Linked DNA regions of Homo sapiens: region 2 is linked to region 1. The links come from fine-mapping of genetic effects on gene expression. A gene starts in region 1. The other region holds a variant in brackets. All regions are shown on one strand. Distances are between the middles of the regions.

Region 1 (2,914 bases):
GTCTCTTTTTAAAAAATGGTATATTCAATTTGGGGAACATGCTACAAATCCTCAAAAAACGGGTACAGAAGAAACATACTGCAACACAATAAAAACCACATGAGAGACCCCCACAGCTAGAATCATATGGAATGGGGAAAAATGGAAAGCTTTTCCTCTAAGATCTGGAACATGATAAGGATGCCCACTGTCACCACTGTTATTTAACATAGTACTGGAAACCCTAGCTAAAGCAATCAGTGCAGCCCCTGATATGGCCCCCAACCCACCCTGCCCCCTTGCAACCAGCAGTGTAGCCCCCCCGCAATAGCGCACCCAACACACCCAAACCGCCCCGCCTCCCCGAACCACGGGCATTGCAGCACCCCATAGCACCCTCAACCTGAAACCACCACCCCCCCGCAACAGCCGTGCAGTGCAGCCCTGGATAGGACACTTAGCCCACCTCACTGTTGCCAGCAATACAGTCTGGGATAGTTTCCCCAACAGGCTCCCCGCCGGGGGCAGTGCAGCCCCGGTTAGGGCCCCCAAACCACCCCCGGGTGCAGGCAGCACAGCCCCAGATAGCACACCTAACCAGCCACCCAAGGTGGGCAGTGACGCCTGAGATAGGGCCCCCAACCCGTCCCAGGCCAAGGGCAGTGCAGCCCTGGATAGCGCACTTACCCCGACGCTTTTCTACACTCTGGCCGGTTGCAGTGTCCATCGCTGCCACCAACCGCAGCGGGCAAGGCAAGCCAGCGAGGCAAGGCGAGGCAAGCCGGCGAGGTGGTGAGCCAGGGAGGCCAGCCACAGCCCGGTAGGCTGCAGCCTCCAGCATGCAGTGGCTGGCACCTCCTACTCCAAGCTGGCAATGGAGCAGCTATGAAGTCAGATGCCGACGAGGCTGGAATAGTGCAACTCTAGCTCTTAACATGCTTTATATACCGAGATTATAAACTACATGTTCTGATTGGATGAGAGGAAAACACTAGGCCTACTCTGATTGGACTTTATTGTCACGTTCTGATTGGTTAGCCTAAGACTTGTTCTGATCCAATCAGAACATGAAAATAACGTCCAATCAGAGTAGGCGTAGATGTTTCTCTCATCCAATCAGAACGTGAAGTCCGAGAACCAGGCCTGCACAACCCCCCAGTATATAAGGTATGCTAAGGGGGCGTCGCGCTGTTGCAGGCTATCGTGTGTTAACCTGTACTTCTGCCGCAGAGTTTGGAGAAAGCGGCAGCAGATTGTGCTGCCGCAGGCTGGAGCCTGGAACCTGGAGCCCTGGAGCCTTGAATGGTGTGTGGTGGCAATGGAGAGAGGCAGCTGGCAGTGACAGCTGCTCCGTGCTTGGCTACAGGAAGGAAAGAAGGAGAAAGCACCTACCATAGGCTGGAGGCTAGAGCCTGCAGGACTGCGGCTGGCCTCGCTGGCTCGCCTCCCTGGCTGGCCTCGCTGTGGTTGGTGGCAGCGACGGATACTGCAGCTGGCCAGAGTGTAGAAAGGCAATGGGGTAGGTAAGCTATCCAGGGCTGCCCGCGGCGGGGGCTGGTTGGGGTATTATTCCAGGTGTCACTACTTTGGGTGTACTAGAGTGTTATTTTGGGCGTCACTGCTTTTAGGTGTGCTATCCGGGGCTGCACTGCCCTCAGCAGCGGGTGGGGGGGGGGTTGGTGGGGGGCGGGTTGGGGTCACTATCTTGGGCTGTATTGATGGCAGCAGTAGGGCTGGTTGGGGGCGCTATTGGGTGCTGCACTGCCCGCGACAGGGGCCGGGTTGGGGCTGCTATTGTGGTTGCACTGCCGGCGGCATGGTGGTGGGAGGGCTGGTTAGGGTGCGGACTGGTGGGGGTGCTTACTGGTCGGGCTTCATTGCCGACAGCGGGGTGGGGATGCTATCTGGGGCTGCACTGCCCATGGTGGGGGCTTGTTGGGGGCGCTATGTGGGGTTGCAATGTCCATGGCAGGGGAGAGGTTAGAGGCAGTATCAGGTGCTACACTGCTGGTGGTGGGGCGGGGCAGCGGTGGGTGCGGGTAGGTGCTTGGAGGGTGCGGTTTCGGGCGCTATCGGGCCAGACTGCCCATGATAGAGGGCAGGTTTGGGTGCGCTACTAGGGGATACACTCCTCACAGCAAGGGGCGGTTTGGGGGTGATACCCGGCCGGTGGCAGGCGGGGTGGTGGGGTGGGTTGTGGGCACCGTTCGGGGGCTGCACTGTGGTCAGTGGCGGTGGGGCGAGTTAGGTGCTCTATCAGCTGCTGCACTGTTTGTGGTGGGGGCTGGGTTGGTGTGCTATCGGGGACCATATTTTTGGCAGCGGTATACAGGTTAGGGGTGCTGTCGGAGGCTGCACTGCCCATGGCGGGGTGCGGGTGGGGTGCACTATCCAGGGCATCATTCCCCCTGGGTGGGGGACAGTTGGGGGTGCTATCTGCTATGTAGGGCTGCACTGCTCGTCGTGGGGAGGGGGTTGGGGACCTTAAGGATCCATGGCTGCACTATTGACGGCATGGAGCAGGTGGCCGTGCTCTCCGGGGCATCACTGCCCGCAGCCGGGGGTTAGTTGGAGGTCCTATCGGTGGCTGCATGGCCGACGGCAGACGGTAGGATGGGGGAGTTATCTGGTGCTGCGACGTCCGAGGCAGGGATGGGTTGGGGGCGCTATTGGGTTTTACATTGCAGCGGCGAGGGGCGGTGTTGGGGGCGCTATCCCAGAGCCAACATCAGGCAGCGGATTAGGGGCGCCATCAGGGGCTGCCTTGCTGGTGGCGGCAGAGCTTGCAGCAACAGGGTCTCCAAGGAAGGAGCCTTCTTCCTCTTTCTGGATTTCAGACTCTAAAAGGCGATCTCCTCCTGCTCCTGCTAGAGCGCAGCGAGCGCACGGCGTTTCCGCAGTAATCCTGAGCACGGCAAGGACCCCTTACCCGCCG
Region 2 (2,914 bases), 62 kb after region 1:
AGGCCTGTGCTGCTCTCAGCAGACAATAATAGAGTTGGTAAATCTTTTCATAACCACCTGAGGTGTGAGTGTGGCACTATCAGACCTGACATCCACACTAACAATTGGTGGGCTCTCTCTTCTTTTGCATGGGGTCACCTACAATTGGAACTATGGGTTTGGAGTCCTGACAGTGACCACCACGGGGCCTTTCTTCTTTTGCACTGGATGCTAACTCCCTCTGCCCCAGTGCCCAGCATGCACTTTATCCTGCCTGCTGCTCACTGACCCTTGGAGTTCTGTTGAGCTGGGCTGCAGTGTTGAGTTAAACACCACACCTTTTATAGATTTAGCTGATTGAATTCAGAAGCATTGATAATTTATTCACATTGAGAAACAGGAGTGATTGTAGGTGACTCTGCCTTTGGTGCATGTGAGAAAATTTTTCTCTTGTCACCACAAATGTTTCTTCTTCAGGAAGAACAGGATAAGGAATCCAGAGAAGTGCCCCAGAGGAAACTGTTTCATGGAGAGGAAGCCACAGGGCTGACAGGAAACCAGACCTTAGCCTCCCTCTGCACCTGCCCTGAGGCTGGCTTTTGTGCTCAGTGGGTCCTGAGTGCCCCCAGCTGGTCCTGTTCCCTCTTCAGGGAGGCTTGTTTCTGGGCTCATACTGACATTTTTTCTAATTGTGTTCCCCAAAATGGAGACAGAGTAAACCGTGAATCCATGCATCTCAGAGAACAGAGAACAGCAGAATTACACCCACTGATCCCCCCCACACACATTTAGGTAAATCTTATTAAAACTGCTGAAAAGGAAAGACAAATAGAAATATACGCAGGCAAGTGGAGGTGAGCAGAGGGGGCATTCCTTCCAAAAGAACAGAAAAGATGATGACAGCATTCTTCTGGTTAAAACCTTACAAGCAAGAGGAAAGTTGATGGTATCTGTAAAGTGTTGGATGAAAAGTCAACCCATTATTTTATAACGCATGGGTGTTCTCTAAAAAGTGAAAAAAAATTCTATTTCTCTTTGACAGCATGAGGGTTTCAGTGAATCCAGGCCCTCATGAGACCAGTGAAAATTATTTTGAAAAATTACAGGGTTTGGAAAGGCTCTAACAACATAAAGCAAGTGAAGAAATATTTATTCAAGAAAATCTAGAAAACTCAGTAAGGCCAGTCATCATACTTGATCTAAGATGCTCTTCCTTCCTTCCACATCCCAGCTCAGCATGATGTAAACTCCACTGCGGACAGATGCAGCCAAGAAGACAGGTCACCTTCTACCAACTCCCACCAGAGGAAACTCTTCCCCAGGACCCAGTACGTTGGCCCTCTGACCCTGCACACAGCACATGATGCTGAGGTTCAGTGCTGAACAAGAGCTACTGAGAGCCAGAGATTCACTTCTTCCATGGAGCCCCACTCATGGATGGAGGCTCTGTCCCGGGTCCAGTGCCACTGGGAACACTGGGTCTCTGGTTTCTAGCTCTGTCCTATGGCAGAGGTTCCACCCCACAATAACCGAAGTGCTGAGAAGGTGGGAAGCTCCTGCCCGACCCTCCACTGAGAGCTCAGCTCCTAGGCTGAGGAATAAAACAGCTCAACTTTGTCTACACCTGCAGAACCTTGTTTAGGAGCTCTGTCCCAGGAGAGAGGGGGCAATGGAATTCAGTCATAAAATATGATCCTTAATTAGTCCTAAAAATCCTAACTTCAGTAACAGCAGA[T/A]TGTGGACAAATTGAAAGCCTGCCAGTGCTCTCAAAAACAGTGGATGGTGTGGTGGAAAGCCCTTGGAAGGAGACGGGTGGATGCATGGGAGATGCAGGCTACACTGCAGGGCTGCTGGCTTGCAGGAGAGAACCGAGGACAAGGGAGAGCTGGGGAAAGTTCTCTTGTGGTTGAAATAAATGCCAGACACTCTTCAATGGAGCCCATGTTTGTTTGGTTCAGTCTGTGAAGTAATTCAAACCTCAGTGCATGATTGAAAATAGTACAATTTTCCATCTGCAAGTGGCAGAGCTCAACATCTGGGTCTGGTCAGGAGAGAGACAGAGAGAGCCCAGCCCAAACCACTGACACCTGGGGTTGACAGTGCTGCTTACAGATGTGTTCCTTTGATCTTTGAGACTGGTTTCTCTCACTTAGCATAATGCCTGGAGTTCAACTGTAATGGTTTGTGAATCGATCATTTGATATTTTTTATTGCTGATGGATTCAATTTATAGATGCTTCCTAGTTTTTTCACCTACTCAAATTTTGAGACATTTATGTTATTTTTCATTTCTAACACACACACATGTAATATCTTGAATATTTGAATAGAGGTTTTGTGTGAAAATAAGATTGTATTTCTCTGAAGCAAAATTCAAGAGTGGGATATTTAGGTCATGTGTTAAGGGCATGTTTGATTGCAGAAAAAACTAAAAATTATTTTCCCGAGTAGCTGTTTCATTTTGCATTCCCATTAACAATGTCGTAGACACTAGGAACTTGGTATGCTCATCAGCATTGGTATTACCTGTATTTCTTCTTAATTTCAGCCATTCTAAAAAGTGTATAGTGGTGTCTCATTGTGGGCTTGATTTGAATTCCTTTAATGGAAAATCCTGTTAACAGCCTGTTTATATGCTTATGTGTCATCTGCACATCTCATTTGATGAAATGTCTGCACAAACCTTTGCCTATTTTATCCATGGGTTGTTTCTTTCTTATTTCTTTTTCACAGTTGAGTCTTGAGAGTTCTTATTCTAATTAAATTGGTGGTTATGTGATTTGAAAATAGTTTCCCATCTGAAACTTGACATTCATGTTCTTATAGTTACTTGAGTAGAAAACGTCTTTAAATTTAATGAGTTTCAACTGATAGTAATTTCATTTATTGATCATTTTTTACATATTATATTATATTATATTATTTTATTTTATTT

Which allele goes with the higher level. Positions count from the first base shown, and alleles are read on the strand shown. Sizes are in standard deviations (SD) of each study's normalised expression.
For the expression in testis of the gene that starts at base 1,170 in region 1, T is the high allele of the variant in region 2 and A is the other (moderate effect, 0.45 SD a copy in GTEx).

What was found.
Region 2: its variant is fine-mapped to the expression of LINC01193 in testis (GTEx, PIP above 0.99).

The regions. Positions count from the first base shown.
Region 1 is chr15:20,939,269-20,942,182 of GRCh38, forward strand. It overlaps LINC01193 (long intergenic non-protein coding RNA 1193), which reads left to right and starts at 1,170. Exons shown (of 5, transcript NR_040094.1): 1 at 1,170-1,498. It overlaps MIR5701-1 (microRNA 5701-1), which reads left to right and starts at 984; the gene lies at 984-1,065.
Region 2 is chr15:21,001,601-21,004,514 of GRCh38, forward strand. FAM30C (family with sequence similarity 30 member C) reads left to right here and starts at 1,677. Exons shown (of 4, transcript NR_145444.1): 1 at 1,677-2,159. The variant T/A (reference allele first, on the strand shown) is at 1,715.